Linked DNA regions of Homo sapiens: region 1 is linked to region 2. A link means that fine-mapping ties the variant in region 2 to the expression of a gene that starts in the linked region. Tissue or cell type: unexposed skin. Region 2 holds a variant in brackets; the other region holds the start of a gene. All regions are shown on one strand. Distances are from middle to middle.

The links. PIP is the estimated chance that this variant, and not a neighbour inherited with it, causes the effect.
Region 1: ARL4D starts here. The variant in region 2 is fine-mapped to the expression of ARL4D in unexposed skin (GTEx, PIP 0.99).

Annotation. Positions count from the first base shown.
Region 1 is chr17:43,393,922-43,403,635 of GRCh38, forward strand. ARL4D (ARF like GTPase 4D) reads left to right here and starts at 5,072. Exons shown (of 2, transcript NM_001661.4): 1 at 5,072-5,172; 2 at 5,740-7,216. The coding sequence starts at 5,812. The coding sequence ends at 6,417. It also overlaps the pseudogene RNU6-1137P. RefSeq lists an enhancer at 5,196-5,699.
Region 2 is chr17:43,436,725-43,447,749 of GRCh38, forward strand. It overlaps MIR2117HG (MIR2117 host gene), which reads left to right and starts at 7,983. Exons shown (of 2, transcript NR_146952.1): 1 at 7,983-8,184. It overlaps MIR2117 (microRNA 2117), which reads left to right and starts at 8,082; the gene lies at 8,082-8,161. It also overlaps the pseudogene RNU6-406P. RefSeq lists an enhancer at 1,942-2,706. The variant C/A (reference allele first, on the strand shown) is at 4,654.

The sequences.
Region 1 (9,714 bases), 43 kb before region 2:
GTTTCTGCTCAAATAGTGTTCATTTTAATTTGGTATCTCACACACACTAAAAACTTGAAGAGGGTGTATTTTCTACCTCCAACCTGAAACTGTAGGAAAGGCCCTGTCTGAAAGGAGACTTCGGGAGCTGACAAAGGAACCTGAATAACTTCATCCACTAAGACTCCGCTTTTCTTCACCAATCAGGCGGTGACAAATACATCCACCAGGGGGCAGCATCTACTTATTTCTAGCCCCTGGCTCCACCCTAGGCCTTGATTTTGGGGTGGTTGCCAGGGAAAGAGTTCCTGGTTGGGGAGAAGGGTATCTTTGGGGCCCTTTCGCACATTTTTGCCCCACACTCATACTTAGCGATAGGTTGGGTTTTCTCAATTTTGTTCATGAGGAAACAGAACTGGGATTTGAAAAATGGGCCTTCGTGATTGCCGAGCTGGTAACTGCTCCGTGGCGTCCATTCCCCCACCCCACCCCCTACTCCTGCAGACTCCTCTTTCCCTCGTTTGTTCACGAAGACAAGTACTTGGTTAAGATGCTGCAGAGACAAGGATGTTCTCAGCCACTTCCTAGAAGAGCTCCACCCATCCTCCTACCCTCCCTTACTTCAGAGCATGGGCTGTTATGGGGAAACGACCTGGAGACATCTAAAGCCCCTCATTACAGGATGAGGAAACCGAGGCTCCCAGGTGGGGAAGTTACTTTTTTTTGAGACGGAGTCTCGCTCTGTCGCCCAGGCTGGAGTGCAGTGGCGCAATTCGGCTCACTGCAACCTCCGCCTTCCCGGTTCCAGCTATTCTCCTGCTTCAGCCTCCGGAGTAGCTGGGACTACAGGCGTGCGCCACCACGCCCTGCTAATTTTTTTGTATTTTTAGTAGAGACGAGGTTTCAACATGTTGGCCAGGCTGGTCTTGAACTCCTAACTTCAGGTGATCCATCCGCCTCAGCCACCCAAAGTGTTGGCATTATAGGCGCGAGCCACTGGGCCCGGCCGGAAGTGGCTTTTTACTTTTTCAAGTCACTCTACTAGTGAGGAATGGAAGGATGGGACTCACGCACTGAATCTCAGTCTGGTGTTCCAGCATGTCCTAAGGGCAACCTGTCTCTCCAGTGTCATCCCCATTTTTGGTCCTTGTTTTTCTCCTTTAAGTTCCTCCTCTCCAATAAAGGCCTGAGAGTTCTATACTACTCAGACACTGCCTAGAAATGCAGGGTTTGTAGGAATTCCTGGCCAACCCAGTATCAACAGAACCCCCAAGGGCCCAAGGGCCCAAGGACCCCAGGCTGGGAAACTCCCACGCTAAGGGTGGAGGTTTGGTTCTCCTACTCAGGGAGCCCTCTGAGTACATTTATTCCATCATGCATTCATTAATTCACACAAGATTTTCTGACTGCCTATGTGTGCCAGGCATGGTGCTGGGCATGGTAGAGCTACAGATAAGAACCAGCTGCTGCCCTTGATCACGTAGTCTGGTGGAGGAGACAGCTCTGAGGAAGAATGATGCTTATCTGACTCAGTGTCACTTAAACCTTGGCTCAGCGTCGCCGCTTTGAAACTTTCTCCTGCACACTCTTCCACCAATCTAAAGTAGTTCTCCAGCCACATGTGGTGGCACGCACCTGTAATCCCAGCTACTCAGGAGTCTGAGGCGGAGGATCTCTTGAACCGAAGAGTTCAAGGCTGCAGTAAGCTATGGTCTCGCCACTGCACTCCAGCCTGGGTGACAGAGTGAGACCTTGTCTTTAAAAAAAAAAAAAAAAGGCCGGGCGCGGTGGCTCATGCCTGTAATCCCGGCACTTTGGGAGGCCGAGGCGGGCGGATCACGAGGTCAGGAGATTGAGACCATCTTGGCTAACACGGTGAAACTCCGTCTCTACTAAAAATACTAAAAATTAGCTGGGCGCGGTGGCGGGCACCTGTAGTTCCAGCTACTCGGGAGGCTGAGGCAGGAGAATGGCATGAACCCGGGAAGTGGAGCTTGCAGTGAGCCGAGATAGCGCCACTGCAGTCCGCCCTGGGCAAAACAGCGAGACTCCGTCTCAAAAAAAAAAAAAATTATTTTTATTTTAATTTTGAAAAAATAGGGAATGCTTCATGAATTTGCAAGTCATCCTTGCACGGGGCCATGCTAATTTCTGTATCGTTCAAAAAAAAATGATTGCTTAATGTACAAATGTTCAGATGTTCTCTGCAGGGATTAGTGTAAGCCCATAGCTTAGTGCTACCTGGACGAGCTGGGCCCCTTTTTTTACCCCTCCCCAGCCCCACCTTCTCCTTCCCATTTGTTCATTAACACCTTCTCTGGCAAACATGAAAGACGGAAGGGTGGGGTAGGATTGTCAGTTTCATTTCCTTTATCAGATAAGTGACAATTTCTGTCTTGGATGTGAGTCCCAAGACAGATTATAGGAGCCATGTTAAAGAAGCTTCAAAGATTGTGGAAGAAACAAGACAACTTGTGTATTTTCAGTTTTTGTGTGTTTTCAGTCTCATAGCCATTGTAACATTTGTTCAAAGCCAGGTTTGGCCAGTTTCTAGCTGGATGACCTTCAACAAATTACCTAACCTTTCTGTGCTTCAGTTTCTTCTTTTTAGACTAACCATACTTACTTCATGGGCTTGACTTGTGTATTAAAAAAGGAAAAGTAAGCAAAGTTCCTAGACCAGAGCCTGGCATGCAGTGGCCACTCAACAGTGCAGTGGTTCTCAACCGCTGGGCCTGCTCCGTCTTCCCCTCTCCTAACTTCACCATGCTCAGGTCTGTCTCCTGTACGTTAGCTGCTGCTGCAACCTGTCACCCTCCAACTTGGGGTGTAACAAACTAATTTCCTAAGGTCTTAATCTTAGACTAATTTCCTAAGGTCTTTAGGGATTTGGGGAGGCTCCCTGCATTGCTGGGGAAACCAGGTGGCTGGTTTTGTAGTGGAGGGGAGAAAAAGGAGGTGGCAAAGCACACTGGTGACAAACAGATGGGAAGCTTATTTATCAGCACTTGATTGAGGAGGGTGGGCAGGAAAAGGCTGGGCCGTGCTGTCTGGCAATGACTTCCCTTCTCCTTTTTCCAATCCCTCTCACACATAGCCCTTAAAAAGATTAATACTGAATTACACAATAAATAAAATAATCCACGCCTGTAAATCCCAACACTTTGGGAGGTCGAGGCGGGCGGATCACCTGAGATCGGGAGTTCGAGACCAGCCTGACCAACATGGAGAAATCCTGTCTGTACTAAAAGTACAAAATTAGCCGGGCGTGGTGGCACATGCCTATAATCCCAGCTACTCGGGAGGCTGAGGCAGGAGAATTGCTTGAACCTGGGAGGTGGAGGTTGCAGTGAGCCGAGATCGCACCATTGGACACCAGCCTGGGTAACAAGAGCAAAACTCTGTCTCAAAAATAAATAAATAAATAAATAAATAAATAAATAGATAAAGTTACAATTTACAATTTCATTCTTCTTTGATTGGCCCTCTTCTCTCCCCCACCTAATTGCTGTTGTCCTTTTGGTCACACTGCCCTTTGTGACATCTCCTTCCTTTCAGGGCTGCCCAGACTGTAGCAGGCTGCAGTGGCTGGGGAGACCCTACTCATTCCTGTGCCCCTCCTAACCAGTCCTAGATAGGGCTAAAGAACGTCTATAAACCTTTTCAGAAGCTTCCAGTTGACACATTCTCTCTCTTCTCTGAAATCCTACAAGTGCTATCTCATGATTTACAAAGACCCAATACATGTGCTGTCTCATTCTGTCATTGCCAGTCTTAAGTCTTAAGCCCTTTGAGGCCTGATTCTACAGCCGAGACATCCTCTATTTCTCCACCATCTCTCTGTCTCATTCAGAGCACACAGTATGAATGAGGTCAATAAACACAGTGTTTTTTGTTTTGTTTTGTTTTGTTTTTGTTTTTTTTGAGACAGAGTCTTGCTCTGTTGCCCAGGCTGGAGTGCAATGGTGTGATCTCAGCTCACTGCAACCTCCGCCTCCCGGGTTCAAGTGATTCTCCTGCCTCAGCCTCCCGAATAGTTGCAATTACAGGCGCCCGCCACCACACCCAGCTAATTTTTGTATTTTTAGTAGAGACGGGGTTTCACCATGTTGGCCAGGCTGGTCTCGAACTCCTGACCTCAGGTGCTTCGCCCACATCGGCCTCCCAAAATGCTGGTATTACAGGCGTGAGCTACCGTGCCCAGCCCAATAAACACACTGGTTTTTTTTTTTTGTTTGCTTTGTTTTGAGACAGAGTCTTGCTCTGTCGCCCAGGCTGGAATGCAGTGGCGCTATCTCAGCTTACTGCAACCTCCGCCTCCCGGGTTCAAGCGATTCTCCTGCCTCAGCCTCCCGAGTAGCTGGGATTACAGGCACCCGCCACCACGCCCGGCTAATTTTTGTCTTTTTATTACTGATGGGGTTTCACCCTGTTGTCCAGGCTGGTGGAACTCCTGAGCTTAAGTGATGTGCCTGCCTCAGCCTCCCAAAGTGCTGAGTTTACAGGTATGATCCACTGCGCCTAAACATACTGTTGAGTGTAACCTCAAATAGGTCATTTAACCCTTCAGGGCTTTGTGTATCTGTAAAAGGCAGACAACAGTCCCTAACAGGCTATTGCAGATAATGGGCTTAGCACTATGAAGCAGCTGTTTTATGGGGCTCCAGGTTCACCTTAGGTTTGACAATTGAATTATGAAAGATAAAGGAGAAAGACTTGTCAGCCTCTCCGAGTAGATCCTTTGGCCGAAGGAGTGTCCATGTGGGGTGGTATCTCGGCCTGGTGGAGGGGGATGCGATGGTAGTGAGAATATTAGGGTATTCATATCTTTCCTCCCGAGTCAAACGTTGCCAGGCACGTTCCTTTCGCCCCTCCCACCCTCCATTCTGCATTAATTCCAAGTTTAATTCCAAATATTAGAGTGTGGTAGAAAAGGTCAAATAGAGCAGCCACGGATTAAGCAAACGCCCCTCCGCGTATGGTGGGGGCTGCAGCGCCCGTAGCTCCACGCTCCGCCCCGCCGCCGCTGATTGTCCCGCGCCTTGTGACGTCACACGCGGGTTTTTAAGGCCGAACCCTAGGCAGGCTCTGCAGAGGCAGCGGTTGGAGGCGCGGTGGGTGTCTGCGGGGGTCTCGCGGGGCGGCTGCGGTGTTTCACCGGGAAAGGCTCGAGGAGAGCGCGGCTCACGAGAGGTAAACGGACCCTGCAGACCGTGCTGAGGCGGTCCCGGTGCCGGGCCGCTGGAGCTGGGGTCGGCCATCGGAGGAGGGCGGGCGGGCAGGAGAGTGTCGCGGGGCGGTGGGGCGAGGGTCGCGGAGTAAGGAAGGGCACCGTGTCAACGGCTTGGGGCTGCGGAGGGCGGGTGGGAGCCGGACTCAATCTCCGGTCTCAGCGTCTGCACCCTAGCTCTTAGTTTGGGGGCACTGTCGACTTCCCCCGTCCCTCGGGGATCTTGCCTGGGGGATGGCGCCATAAGCTCTGAGAAGAGGCTCTAGAAGCCCACTGTCCATGGATCGAGCCCTCACCCCCCACTTGAGTGGCCCAGGACCTGGGAGTCTCTCTAGGTCCCATCGCCCCCCTCACGACCCCCCCAGGGAGTGGGGGAACACCTCTGTTATGCCTTAAAAAAAAAAAAAAAAAGGAAAGGAATTTTAAAAATGAAGGATGGGAGGGTGATTTAGGAAGGGATCAAGAAGTTGCAAATCTTGTGTGTATTATTAAACGTCTCCTTTTTCTCCCATGACCTTTTCTTGGTTCAGATAACCCAGCTGTGCTCCCTGGAACCTTCAATTTCAAGGCCTCCCTGCCTCTACTAGGCGCCTTAGCTCACTATGGGGAACCACTTGACTGAGATGGCGCCCACTGCCTCCTCCTTCTTGCCCCACTTCCAAGCCCTGCATGTCGTGGTCATTGGGCTGGACTCTGCTGGAAAGACCTCCCTCCTTTACCGCCTCAAGTTCAAGGAGTTTGTCCAGAGTGTCCCCACCAAAGGCTTCAACACCGAGAAGATCCGGGTGCCCCTCGGGGGATCGCGTGGCATCACCTTCCAAGTGTGGGACGTCGGGGGGCAGGAGAAGCTGCGACCACTGTGGCGCTCTTATACCCGCCGGACAGACGGTCTAGTGTTTGTGGTGGACGCTGCGGAGGCTGAGCGGCTGGAGGAAGCCAAGGTGGAGTTGCACCGAATCAGCCGGGCCTCGGACAACCAGGGCGTGCCAGTGCTGGTGCTGGCCAACAAGCAGGACCAGCCCGGGGCACTGAGCGCTGCTGAGGTGGAGAAGAGGCTGGCAGTCCGAGAGCTAGCAGCCGCCACTCTCACTCATGTGCAAGGCTGCAGCGCTGTGGACGGTCTGGGCCTGCAGCAGGGCCTTGAGCGCCTCTATGAGATGATCCTCAAGAGGAAGAAGGCAGCTCGGGGTGGCAAGAAGAGACGGTGACCCAAGCCCCCCCTCCCTTTCCTCCCACCTAGTAGGGGTCTGCACACTTGGACAGCAGGGTGGGACCAGCCTGTGACCTCTCAGTCAGACTGGGGTGCAGGACCTGTCCACCTCAATGAAGGAGAGAGGAGCATGGGGTGTCCCGTTTTGGTGCCACACTGGGGTGGGGATGGGAGATGGGATGTCTTTGCATATCTCTCTCATCCTCTCTGGAGAAGTGGGCGCTGCAGGACTGTGGAGACGTAAATGTAAACTGTGACTCTACCTCGACCCTGTTTCTTATTTTTCTTCTCTGGCTAAAAATTTTTAATTGGATGTGTTTGGGGGCGGGGGGATGGAAGTGACTTGGAGAATGTGTTTGGGATGAAATAACTATCTCCCCTTCCTCTGTCCCCCAACTGGGGAGTCTCCCCAGGCTGCTTTTCTAGGAATACCAGTCACATAGTTTTTATTTTTGTGTCTGTGAAAGTGCCAAGAACCCCTCCCCACATTTGTAGATCCATGACCCTTTTTATAAGCTGTGTGTGTCCTCTGTATTATTGTTATTAACTATTTTTTAGCATTTGCCTGTAAGTTATTAAAGACTGATAACTGTAGCTCTTACCTTGGTCTGGGGCATTTTCCTCTCCTTATCTTGCCCCAGAGACAATTCAAGATTTCTATATGGGGTTGTGGCGCAGGGGGAGGGAGATTTATCTTGAAGCTGAATTTGCAAAGCAAGCACTTATAAAAATTAGATTGTGTGTTACGGGATGGCTTGTGAAAATTATAGGGGGGAGTGGAAAACCCCTCAAGCTATTGCCTGATCTCTGTAGTTTTTTGGGTGGGGTCACTTCCTTTTTCTCTGATTTAACACCCCTCCCCTCATCCTCTGGGTCTTACTTGTCCCTTATATCAACTGCTCCTTGCAGATTTAACTTCAAATTTTGCTAGTCTGAGCTACTCCTAGGTTCTTGACCTTGGTGACACCTAAGTCTATATAGGTAAGTCCTCAAAGAGCCATTCTGTTCCCATCCTCCCCACTTCCCCAGTCTTAGGTTGGTTTGATTTTTTTCCTCCTTGTAAGATGTGGTGAGAGTGGAAAGTAATTCCTCCCTGGCCTTAAGTCACCTCTGTGTACTCAATCCTGCTGACTGGCTCACTGGCATGATGGCAGCGGCTGGTGCTAGGGAGGCCTGGGCTGGATTGAGCCAGCCTGGCCCTGGTGACTAAGCCATGAGTTTTCCAGCTCTGGGAATGGTAGCTCTTCTCACGAGAGGGGCAGAAGTAGTAGCTGTTTGTGCTTGGTGGCAGAGAGGACTGCTGGACATACACCCTCCAGACTCCAAGATAGAAGGGGGAAGACATAAGCCCCCAGTATTTGTGGTGATTGTAAGAATAAAATGCTAATATTACAAGGGCTTGAGTGCCCCTACTCACCAGCACCAGGGCCAGCTATGTCTGATAACAGAACCCTTAGATCCTCTTAATCTTCTGGGTGGGAGCAGTGAGTAAGAACTAAGCACAAGGCCGGGCACAGTGGCTCACGCCTGTAATCCCAGCACTTTGGGAGGCTGAGGCAGGAGGATGGCTTGGGCCCAGGAGTTCAAGACCAGCCTGGGCAACATAGGGAGACCATGTCTCTAAAAAAGAAAAAAAACAAGCACAATTCTTTCCAGTTGTCGAGCCCTCCAGCCACCCCCTGCCACCTTTTGTGCAAACACACAATCCCCAGAGCAGGTTCAGCGTTCACACCCTGCTTCTCCCCAATTCTGTCTCCTCTTCTCCGGAATCAGATGAAAGGACCTGGGGAGAAAGAGAAGGTGCCGGCAACCCCCACTTCTGGGGAAGGTTTCCTAAAGAACTTGCTTCTTCCTACCCAGCGCTGCCAGAAGCTCAGATTTGGTCCCCTCCCCATCCCTGTAGCTGGCAGGATTGGGGTGAGTGTGCATTGATCCGGAAGGGTGCCCAAGTGTGCGTCAGTGCTAGGGCCTGCTTGACAGAACTGCTGGGCTGGTTCTGCTGGGAACATGTGCTACCTGCCCCTCCCCCAGACACACCTGCGACTCCTCTCCCAGTCTTTTTGGGGCACAGTCCTATAGCCCAAGGACAGGTTGAGGCCCCAGTCCAGGCTGGAAAGGAACTGGCCAGAACTGACCCTCTGTCCTGCCAGGAGATCTTTCCTCCCCACCCCACCCAAATTCTGCTCTTTTGTCTTAAAATCTTCAATTATACATTTTCATTTCTTGTCACTTGGTGTACTTAGGTCTCCAGATTTGGGGGAAGAGGTGCAGAGGTGTTCCCCAATCCCTAGCAGAGGGGCCTCCAAGATGTCAGCTCCTGATTCTGGCTCTTCCAACCACACTCCTTCCCTACCTGCTTAAAACAGGTATCTTCTGCTTCCCCATGCCCAGCCCTGGGGGCGGTCAGGGATCATGGTCCACAGGAGGCCTTTGAATGTCCCAGGCTCTTCCCCAGTCCCTCTGGCCTGACTGTCCAGCTGGTGGCACTAAAGGAAGATGGGGGCTTGTGTCAGAGAGAGACGGAGAAGCCAACTGCTCTGCCAGAGTAGTGGGGAGAGGGGAACACTGGGGAATTCTGAGTAGAAAGCCACAAATTGTGGCCGGGTCAGAGTCAGGAGCTTTGGAATAATCCTCCTGCCTTGGCTCATCAAAGGGACTGGAGAGCTGGAAGGGAAGGGATCACTTCCTATCTGCAGGATGAGAGAGGGAGAGAGAACCTCTCACTCTCCAGTCCTGCCCAGAGATTCTGCATTTTGAACTCAGGGCAAGGGCAAGGAATGAGGGTGTGATCAGGATGGAGAGTGAGGTTATATTTGCCCTGTACTGGCTTCTCTATTAAGTAGGATTTCTTCGAGACCCTGGCATGGGTGCTGAGGAGCTCTTCCTTGGGGGCCAAGAGTGGTGTGGCTGAGGCTAGTTGCCTGTAAAGTTGAGGGAAACCTGCTGTAGACCCAGAGTTCCAGAGTAGAGGCCGTTTTTTTTTTTTTTTTTTCCTCCTCTGTTACCCAGGCTGGAGTGCAGCGGTGCGATCTTGGCTTGCTGCAACCTCCACCTCCCCGGTTCAAGTAATTCCCATGTCTCAGCCTCCCAAGTAGCTGGGATTACAGTCACGCACCACCATGCCTGGGTAATTTCTGTATCTTTAGTAGAGATGGGGTTTCGCCACGTTGATCAGCCTGGTCCTGAACTCCTGACTTCAAGTGATTTGCCTGCCTCAGCCTCCCAAAGTGCTGGGATTACAGGCGTGAGCCACCATGCCCAACCCCAGAGTTGAGGCTTTCTTCTGAGCTGTCCT
Region 2 (11,025 bases):
TGCACTCCAGCGTGGGTGACAAAGCGAGACTCCGTCTCAAAAAAAAAAATGCTTTGTTTTTTGTTTTGTTGTGTTTTTTTGAGAGTTTCCCTCTGTTGCCCAGGCTGGAGTACAATGGCACCATCTCAGCTCACTGCAACCTCCGCCTCCCGGATTCAAGTGATTCTCTTGCCTCAGCTTCCTGAGTAGCTGGGATTACAGGCATGCGCCACCACACCCAGCTAATTTTGTATCTTTAATAGAGAAGGGGTTTCTCCATGTTAGTCAGGCTTGTCTCGAACTCCCGAACTCAGGAGATCTGCCCACTTCAGCCTCCCAAAGTCCTGGGATTACAGGCGTGAGCCACCGTGCCCATCCTTATTTATTTATTTATTTATTTTTGAGATAGTGTCTTGCTCTGTCATTCAGGCTGGAGTGCAATGACATGATCTTGTCTCACTGCAACCTCCACCTCCTAGGTTCAAGGATTCTCCTGCCTCAGCCCCCCAAGTAGCTGGGATTACAGGCATGCACCACCATGCCCCACTCATTTGTATATTTTTAGTAAAGGAGGGGTTTCGCCATGTTGGCCAGGCTGGTCTTGAACTCCTGACCTCGGGTCATCCGCCCTCCTCGGCCTCCCACAATGTTGGGATTACAGGCAGGAGCCACCATGCCCAGCCTCTTTCAGTTTTATTTCTATGCATAACAAAATGGCATTATGCGATGGCTTGTGTTTTTTTTTTTGTTTTTTTGTTTGTTTGTTTGTTTGTTTGTTTTTGAGACAGGGTCTGGCTCTGTCATCCAGGCTGGAGTGCAGTGGTGCGATCTTGGCTCACTGCAACCTCCACCTCCTGGGCTCAAGCTATCTTCCCACCTCAGCCTCCCAAGTAGCACAGGCCACCACACCCAGCTAATTTTTTATTTTTTGTAGAGATGGGGTGGTCTAAAACTCCTGGGCTCAAGTGATCTTCCTGTCTCGGCCTCCCAAAATGCTGGGATTACAGGTGTGAACCACTGCGCCCAACCCTGATTTTTTATCTTCACTTAGCAATATATCATGAACATTTGCCTTTGTTAGTAAATATTCTTCTATAGCAAGAATATTGAATATTAGTTGGCAAGCTTTTTCTATAAAGGTCTAGGTAGCAAATGTTTCAGGCTTTGTGGGCCATACAGTTTGTTGCAACTCTGTTGTTCTAGCATGAAAACAGCCATAGACAACACATAAACAAATGAGTGTGGCTGTGTTTCAATAAAACTTTATTTACAAAAACAGGATGGACATTCATTTGGCTTGTGGGTGTGTTTCCTGACTCCTGTCTTATAGCACGGTTTCTTTTTTAGAGCTCACTAAGATCCCATTGTATGTCTACTCTGCAATTTTTATTCTCTTAACCTTGAATATTTAGTTCATTTCCATTTTTTAATATTACAGAGAATCACTGCAAGTAATATCTGTGCATCTTTGTCTCCCCTGTCCACCCCCAAGATAAATTTCTAAAAGTGTATTGATGGGCCATGGGTTTTGCCTAATTTTTAGAGCTTGCGACTCAAATTGCCCAGTGGCCCTTCAGGAAGTACAGGAGAGGGCTGCCCACTTCTTGCATCTTTGCCAAAACTGGGTATTAAAATTCCTTTTAATCTTTGTCAATATACTTTGTCAATATACTTTTTTTTTTTTTTTTTGACACGGAGTCTCACTTTGTCGCCAGGCTGGAGTGCAGTGGCATGATCTTGGCTCACTGCAACCTCTGCCTCCCGGGTTCAAGCAATTCTTTCGCCTCAGCCCCCCGAGTACTGGGACTACAGGCACGCGTCACCATGCCCAGCTAATTTTTGTATTTTTAGTAGAGACAGGGTTTCACCAGGTTGGCCAGGATGGTCTCGATCTCTTGACCTCGTGGTCCGCCCTCCTTGGCCTCCCAAAGTGCTGGAATTACAGGCGTGAGCCACCGTGCCCAGCCGATATATACTTTAAAATATTTTTAACTGTAATTTTAATCCCATGGCATCTTAATTTAATGGTTTTTGTCACCACAAAACCGGTGTTTGCAGATCATGAAGCAAAGATACATGTGTCCTTTGTCTCCAAGGTGCTGGCTTTTGACATGCTGTGAAACTGCCCCAAGGGACAGTCAGATAAAACAAATTACTTGCTTCAGAAGCAAACCCTGTCTGTCAAGTTATTGGATACAAGCTGAGACCCCAGAGCCCTGCTCACAGATAAGTATTCAGTGGAGAAAGTAGGAAGATTACTATAAGTCTGAAGTTAAATATCCTCTTTTTCCGACCTCCAGTAAAGGGAAATGTATTTTGGAACTTATGTAAAAATGTCTTTGTGATTTTTGCCTTAGAAAACAAACCTGACTCCTTTGTTTTAAGTCCAAGGGCTGATGGTCCACCCCCAGGGATGGGGGGTGTGTCCTGTCACACAGGAGGTGGTGCTTTGTGTGGCTTCCAGTCTCTGCTGGCTCTTTAGGAGTTCAATTTGGGAAAGGGAAAAATAAGGCAACTTAAGTTGCTGCCATCAGTTCCTGGGATGAATGGCTAAGTGATGATGCTGATGAACAATTTGCAGCTAAGAGGCTGTTTGGGAGTTGAAGAATAGCCCATGATTGCAGATAAACACCACCTGCCATGCTGTCCACCGCAGCCCCCCTTCTACTTGGGAGGCAGAGGTTCTCCTTTTCCTTCTCTCTCCATTGCTTTTATGCTAATGCTTTAGAGCTGGATGAGAAAACCGGATTTATAGAAAGTCTAGTTGGTTCCTCTGGCAAAAGCCATTTCCAATTGAAGCTTGTCTACATTTTAACTAAATCAGAAAAATGGTGGCTGCAGAGGCTCTTTAAAAAAAAAAAGAAAAAATTATTGGCCGGGCGCGGTGGCTCACGCCTGTAATCCCAGCACTTTGGGAGGCCGAGGGGGGCAGATCACGAGGTCAGGAGATCGAGACCATCCTGGCTAACACGGTGAAACCCCATCTCTACTAAAAATACAAAAAATTAGCTGGGCGTGGTGGTGGGCGCCTGTAGTCGCAGCTACTCGGGAGGATGAGGCAGGAGAATGGCTTGAAAACCCAGGAGGCGGAGCTTGCAGTGAGCCGAGACTGAGCCACTGCACTCCAGCTTAGGCGACAGAGCCAGACTCCACCTCAAAAAAAAAAAAAAAAAAAAAAAAGTTTACCCTACTTTCAAGCCAACGAGTTATTTTTTTGTTTATTATTATTATTTTATTTATTTATTTGCTTTTTGCAGAGGCTCTTTCCTGGTCCTTGATGGTCCCCTTTGTGTGGACTGTGGACATCATGATTGTTGGAATGCAGATTCCATGGCCCTACACCGGATCCCTGGTAGGCTGGGAATCTGCATTTTGACAAGCTTGCCTAGGTGATTTCATAAACTCTAAGGCAGTGGGTCCTAAACCTAGGTGAGCCTCATAATTAATTGGAGGGTGTTAAAAACTATAGATCATCAAGCCCTGGTCCCTGGAGATCCCGATTCCACAGGCCAGAATCTGTGGAAGAGTTCTTGCAAGGGACTCATGGAAGCAGCCAGGTCTAGGAATTACTACCTTAAGGAAATTACTGGAGGTGAAATATTCAGACTCTCTTATTCATTCTACAAGACCTAGAGCAGAAGAGGCCAGAAGGGGGCCGGAGGTGCCAGGATCCTTTCTGGGGCTGCCTTTGTGTTTATCTTTGGACCTGGGCTGATTGCTTGGAACCAGGCAAGCAGTAACTACAGAGTTTAGAAGCACTTTGGATCAGCCCCTCATTTGCTTGTGGGAGGGAATTGCAACCGCAGACACTCGTTTCATCACTGAGCATGTCTGAGCTGGGGGAGGATATGGGGTGGGATGGCAAGGGCATTGGACTAAGCAGGCCTAAAATATTTTGGGTTTTTTTGTTGTTGTTGTTGTTGTTTGAGATGGGGGTCTTGCTATGTTGCCCAGGCTGGTTTCAAACTCCTGTGCTCAAATGATCTGGCCTCAGACGCCTGAGTAGCTGAGACTGCAGGTGCACACCACTGTGCCCGGCTAGAAAATGTTTACTCTAAGTTTAGTCAATTCTGTCAACTTGAGCAACTTTACCTAATGTCTCTGATCTTCAGAGTTTTTATTCGTAAAATGAATATAACTCTCATTGTAAACATTATATACGGCCAGGTGCGGTGGCTCACGCCTGTAATCCCAGCACTTTGGGAGGTTGAGACGGGCATATCACGAGGTCAGGAAATCGAGACCATCGTGGCTAACACAGTGAAACCCCATCTCTACTAAAAATACAAAAAAAAATTTACCGGGCCTGGTAGCAGGCGCCTGTGGTCCAAGCTACTCGGGAGGCTGAGGCAGGAGAATTGGCGTGAACCCAGGAGGTGGAGCTTGCAGTGAGCCGAGATCGCACCACTGCACTCCAGCCCTGGTGACAGAGCGAGACTCCATCTAAAAAAAAAAATTTATATACAATTTATTAATATAACAAAGAATGGAAATAATAAATAGCACTATGGCAATGCACTAAATCACAGAAATGCAAATTCAAACCAACTTGAAGTATAATTTCACATACATGGACGGTTTTTTTTTTTTTTTTGAAATGGAGTCTCACTCTGTCACCCAGGCTGGAGTGCAGTGGCATGATCACAGCTCACTACAGCCTCTGCCTCCCAAGTT[C/A]CAGCAATTCTCCTGCCTCAGCCTCCCAACTAGCTAGGACTACAGGTGCCCACCACCACACCTGGCTAATTTTGTATTTTTAGTAGAGACAGGATTTCACCATGTTGGCCAGGCTGGTCTCAAACTCCTGACCTCAGGTGATCCCCCCGCCTCGGCCTCCCAAAGTGCTGGGATTACAGGCGTGAGCCACCGCACCCAGCCAAGATTTTTAATATTAAAGTAGTCTGGGTGTGGTTCATGCTACTGGATAGGTTACACTCTATACAAATGAAGGATTCTGCCCAGGACCAATAAGAGGCAGAGCTCTGCCCAGGACCAATCAAAGGCATCCCATCTGTGACCTATGAGCAAATGAAGGTTTCAGAATGGACCATTTACAGAAATTCCCGTTTTTGACATAAGGGAGGGGAGGTTCAGAGAGGGAAGGGCCTATCCAGTGGCTCATGCCTGAAATCCCAGCATTTTGAGAGGCTGAGGCTGGAGGATGGCTTGAGGCCAGGAGTTTGAGGCTGCAATTGAGGCAGGAGAATAGTGTCTGGAGGCAGGAAACCTAAGGCCAACCCACAGCTGCCTTCTTGGAATTGGACTGAAAGAAAAACCCCACCTTTCCATGACCAAGTGATGAGGGGCCAAAGGCCCCTCTCTCTCTGAACCTCCCCTCCCTTATGTCAAAAATGGGAATTTCTGTAAATGGTCCATTCTGAAATCTTCATTTGCTCATAGGTCACAAGTGGGATGCCTCTGATTGGTCCTGGGCAGAGTTCTGCGTCTTATTGGTCCTGGGCAGAATCTTTCATTTGTATAGAGTGTAACCTATCAGACGCTGCTAAAGGGTGCTTAGGGGTGTTACCATGCTCTTTCAATTCAATGAAAACCCCAAGAAACTTTACAATCAGGGTTCTTGAGCCACTCTGTGGAGTGCACTTTCACTTCAATAAATGTATGCTTTCATCTTCTATTGTTTTGTCTGTGCATTTTGTTCAATTCTTTGTTCAACACGCCAAAAACCTGGACAACTCAGTCAAGGCTTCCCATCCTATAACACAATGAGCTATGATTGTGCCACTGCACTCAGTCTGGGCGACAGAGTGAGACCCTGCCTCTACAATAATAATAATAATAAAATAAAAGTAGATTTGTGCAATGGAACACTATGCAGGCATTAAAAAAATCATTCATTATGAAGACCATGTAGCAACAAGGAAAACATTTATAAATGTTTAGTGAAAATAGCAGAACCCCAGATGGTATACCCTTTGACTATAACCGTGCACACTGAGAGAGAGCATGTAGACAGGGCCAGGAGGTAACATGCAAAACAGGGTAGTTGTGCAGAGGATAGGCTTATAGTTACTTTTTTCTTTGCCAAAATTAAAAACAATTTTACTGTTACATTCTTTTTTCATAATAGGAATGACTAATTCCTGCCCTTCTACCATGCTGGCTTGTTCAGCGGACCAAATGAAAAACTGAGAAAACTGTTGTGTCTTCCCGTAGGATGTTGGAGTGAATCTACCATGCATGACTCATGTTTCCATCCCTATCATCCTGGGTAGGGAAGCACCAAGCTGAGGACTCTGGATCCTTTCAGGCTCTAATGACAATGCACATCCAGCATTTGTGGAGTATGTATACAGTTGTCTGGGCCAACTACTGTGGGAAGAGGAAAAGAAGTCACATTGCTACTGGTCATCAAGAGCTCACAAAATAGATGTAGACATCATTTGGGGCTATCTACTTATCCTAGTGATTCTCAACTGAGGTTGATACTTAAATTTTTTTTTTTCATTTTCTTTTTTTTTTAAGTTTCAAGAGGTTGATACTTTTGATTGTCACAATGATTGGCTTTTGATTGTCACAATGATTGGGAGCGTTATTACCACTCACATATAGTAAATGAAGGATGGGATAGTCCTACACAAAAAATTATCTAGCTCCAAATGTCCTCAGTGTCTCTGATGAGAAACACTGATCTAGTCCATAGTCAGGGCTGCCAGGTATGGGTGTGCAGGTTGCCCACTGTACAACTCTTAAGGGAACCATTCACCTGGTGGCTAAGTGTGTCAATTCTGAAACCATACTGCCTGAGTTCCAGTGCCAACTGGAACTGCCCCCCACCCCCTACTTCTTTTTTTTTTTTTGAGACCGAGTCTTTCTCCACCACCCAGGCTGCAGTCCAGTGGCACAGTCACAGCTCACTGCAGACTCTACCTCCCGGGCTCAAGTGATTCTCCTACCTCAGCCTCTTGAATAGCTGGGACCACAGGCACCACCACCACACCTGGTTACTTTTTAAATTTTTTGTAGAGATAAGGTCTCCCTATGTTGCCCAGGCTGGACTCAAAACTCTGAGGCTCAGGTGATCCTCCTGCCTCGGCCTCCCAAAGTGCTGGGATTACAGGTGTGAGCCACCGGACCTGGCCTGGAAGCTCTTGAACATATTGCTTATCTTCTGTGGACCTCAGTTTCCTCATTTATAAAATGGGAAGAGCAATAGTAATATAACTCATACTGATAACATAAGAATATGTTATCAATAATATATGTTCCTGCACATAGCAGACATTCAATTCATGTTCAATGATTATTATTCTCTGAGATCTGACTTCCCCATTGACTGGGGTGGGGCCCTGGTGTCTACTCCCTGATAAAGACCACGTATGCCTGGATTCCTGCTCTCCCTGAGGCTTAACTTTCCTGGTTCCACCTGTAATCTCATTGAGAACTCCCATTGTTGCCTAAACTTGCTTGAGATGGTTTTTGTAATCTACAACCAGAAGTCTTAATTACTAAGACAAGGTGAAAAGACTCACCTGTAGGAAACACAGTAGATAATACAAAAGGGCTTTCAAGTTAGTGTGAGACTGCTTGGCATAGAAAGACGATAAATGCCACAGACAAAACCTAATCGTAACTGAAATAAATAAATTCGAACAACAAATTGTTAAGTGAATGGAATGCAGCTAGCTAGGATCTCATGCTCTGTTCTAAGAAAACAGACAGGTCAAACAATCAGGACCAGTCCAGACATGTGTCTGGGAAGTTAAAGGAAAGAGACCCTGTCCCTCAAAACCTTCCTTACTAGTGACTCATGTCTTCGTTTACCAGGAGGTCTTCTTTGAAAATATGAATGTTTCTGGGAAGGGTAATCCAGAAACCTACTGAGGCTCACCCTACTAGGAATGTATTTACCATTTTTCTTTTCTTTCATGTCTGTTCATTGAGAACACAGAGAATGTATTTATTCAGTGACTTTCTCTCTCCTCCACTTCCCAACCCCAGCTACAAATGGGGACAGCAAGAGAGAGAAAACCTGGGGAGAACGGAAGAAACCATGCTTTGTAGAATGGATCCTGCTTCAGAATTGCTGATCTCATCAACCACATGTTTATAGAGAGAGCAGTGGCCCTTAAGGAACTGGAGAGAATGCTCTGATTTACTTCTGTCCGGCATGGTGAACAGCAGGATTGGCTGTAGCTGTTCTCTTTGCCAAGGACAGATCTGATCTGATTGCCTTGAGGTGAAAGTGAGGTAAGGTGGGGCGGGGATTAGCTTTTGGCTCCCAAGAATGGTTGTTCATCAACCTTTTGCTAAGCCCGTGGTTCTCAAATTTTGCTGCATGTTAGAATCACCTGGGAAGCTTTAAAAAAACATCTCAGTACCCAGGTTGTACCTCAGACCAATTAAATCTGAATGCCTGGGGGCGGTTGCCAGGCATCAGAAGTTTTCAAAGACCTCCCCCAACCAGGTGGTTCCTGGACATGTACCCACGTCCGGGAACCACTGTCCTCAGCATTTATTGTATGAGGCAACTTAGGTGACACACAACAGGTGAGAACCTGGCTCCTGCCTTTCGGACACAGGACTTAATTTTTTTTTTATTTTTTAAATTATGCAGTAAAATTTTTTCTGTTGGTGTACAGGTCTATGAATTTTTTTATACTGAGTTTTTCATACTGCCTGAGTACAATTTAATGGTATACCATAAAGTATACCATAATTTTATGGTATACCGTAACATTTTACATACCATAATTTTATTTTTATAAAGTATACCCACAATTTTATGGTATACCATAAAACTAGTATAGTATACCACAAAATTTACCCTTTTAAATTATACAATTCAATGCTCACTTCAGCAGCACATATACTAAAATTGGAATGATACAAAGAAAATTAGCATGACCCTTGCTCAAAGATGACACTGTAATTTGTGAAGTGTTCCATATTTAAAAAAAAATTTTTTTTAAAGTGTACAACTCAGCCATATGCAGTGGTTCCCACCTGTAATCCCAGGGTTTTGAGGCCAGGCACGGTGGCTCACGCCTATGATCTCAACACTTTGGGAGGCCGAGGTGGGTAGATCACCTGAGGTCAGGTGTTCAAGACCAGACTGTCCAATATGGTGAAACATCATCTCTACTAAAAATACAAAAACTAGCCGGGCATGGTGGTGTGTGCTTGTAATCCCAGCTACTCGGGAGCCTGAGGCGAGAGAATCGCTTGAACCCAGGAGGCGGAGGTTGCAGTGAGCCAAGATTGTGCCACTGCTCTCCAGCCTGGGTGACAGAGCAAGACTCTGTCTCAAAAAAAAAAAAAAAGGCTGGGTGTGGTGGCTCACACCTGTAATCCCCAGTACTTTGGGAGGCCGAGGCGGGCAGATCACCTGAGGTCAGGATTTCCAGACCAGCCTGACCAACATGGTGAAACCCCATCTCTACTAAAAATACAAAATTAGCCGGGCATGGTGGCGCATGCCTGTAATCCCAGCTGCTCAGGAGGCTGAGGCAGGATAATTGCTTGAACCCGGGAGGTGGAGGTTGCGGTGAGCCAAGATCTCGCCATTGCACTTCAGCCTAGGCAAGAAGAGTGAAGCTCTGTCTCAAAAAAAACAATCCCAGGGTTTTGGGATGCCTAGGCGGAGGCTCACTTGAGGCCAGGAGTTTGAGACCAGCCTGGGCAATGCAGCGAGACCCTGTCTCTACCAATAAATGAATGAATGAATAAATAAATAAATAAATAAATAAATAAATAAATAAATAAATAAAATTAGCTGGGGATGGTGGCAAGTGCCTTTAATCCTAGCTGCTCAGGAGGCTGAGACAGGAGGATTGCTTGAGCCCAAGAGTTTGGGGTTACAGTGAGCTATGATCACGTCACTACACTCTGGCTAGGGTGACAGAGAAAGACCTTGTCTCTAAAAAAGAGAGGAAAACAAGTTACCAAATTATACAATTATCTGTTCAGACCTAGATTTACAAGAAAAAAAATGTAAAATTTCGTGTTTTTAGTATATTTGTAAAGTTGTGCCACCATCACCAGTAATTCCAGAACATTTTTATCTCGTCTCCCCAAAATACCCCGAATCCACAGTAGCTTCTCCCCATTTCCCCTTCCGCCCACCCCCTGGCAAATACGAGCCATAGAGACTCTCTCCCTCTATGGCTTTGCCTACTCTTGATATGTCACATAAATGAAATCACACAATCTGTGGCCTTTTATGTCAAGCTTATTTCACTTAGCATGCTGTTTTCAGGGTTTATCTGTGTTGTAGCATGTATTAGTACTACATTCCTTTTTATTGATGAATAATATTCCATTGTATGGATATACCACATTTCATTTATCTATTCATCAGCTGATGGACATTTGGGTTGTTTGCACTTTTTGGCTATTGTGAATAATGCGGCTATAAACATTCTTGTACAAGTTTTTGTGTGAATGTATATTTTCATTTTCTTGGTCTTGGATACTTTTTTTTTTTTCTGAGACGGAGTCTTGCTCTGTCGCCTAGGCTGGAGTACAGTGGTGCAATCTCGGCTCACTGCAACCTCTGCCTGCTGAGTTCAAGCAATTCTCCTGCCTCAGCCCCCCAAGTAGCTGGGATTACAGATGTGTACCACCACACCCGGCTACTTTTTATATTTTTATTAGAGACAGGGTTTTGCCATATTGGCCAGACTGATCTTGAACTCCTGACCTCAAGTGATCTGCCTGCCTTGGCCTCCCAAAGTGCTGGGATTACAGGCATGAGCCACCGAAACCGACCCATAAATCTTTTTATATAGGTGTGATTTCAGCTTAACATTAGTAAAAAAAAATTTCATAAATTTCTTTTCATTTGAGCTATTTTGCAATAGAATGAATGACTGGCTGCTTCACTGGGACTATTAATTCTACAAATATTTATTGAATGCCTACTATATGCCAAGCATTGTTTTTCTCCCATTTGGTGATTATTTATACTTTTATTTTTAGTTTACATGTAATGATTGTACATATTTATGGGATTCAGATTGATACTTCTTTTTTGTTTGTTTGTTTGAGACAGTCTCGCCCTGCCTCCCAGGCTGGAGTGCAGTGGTACAA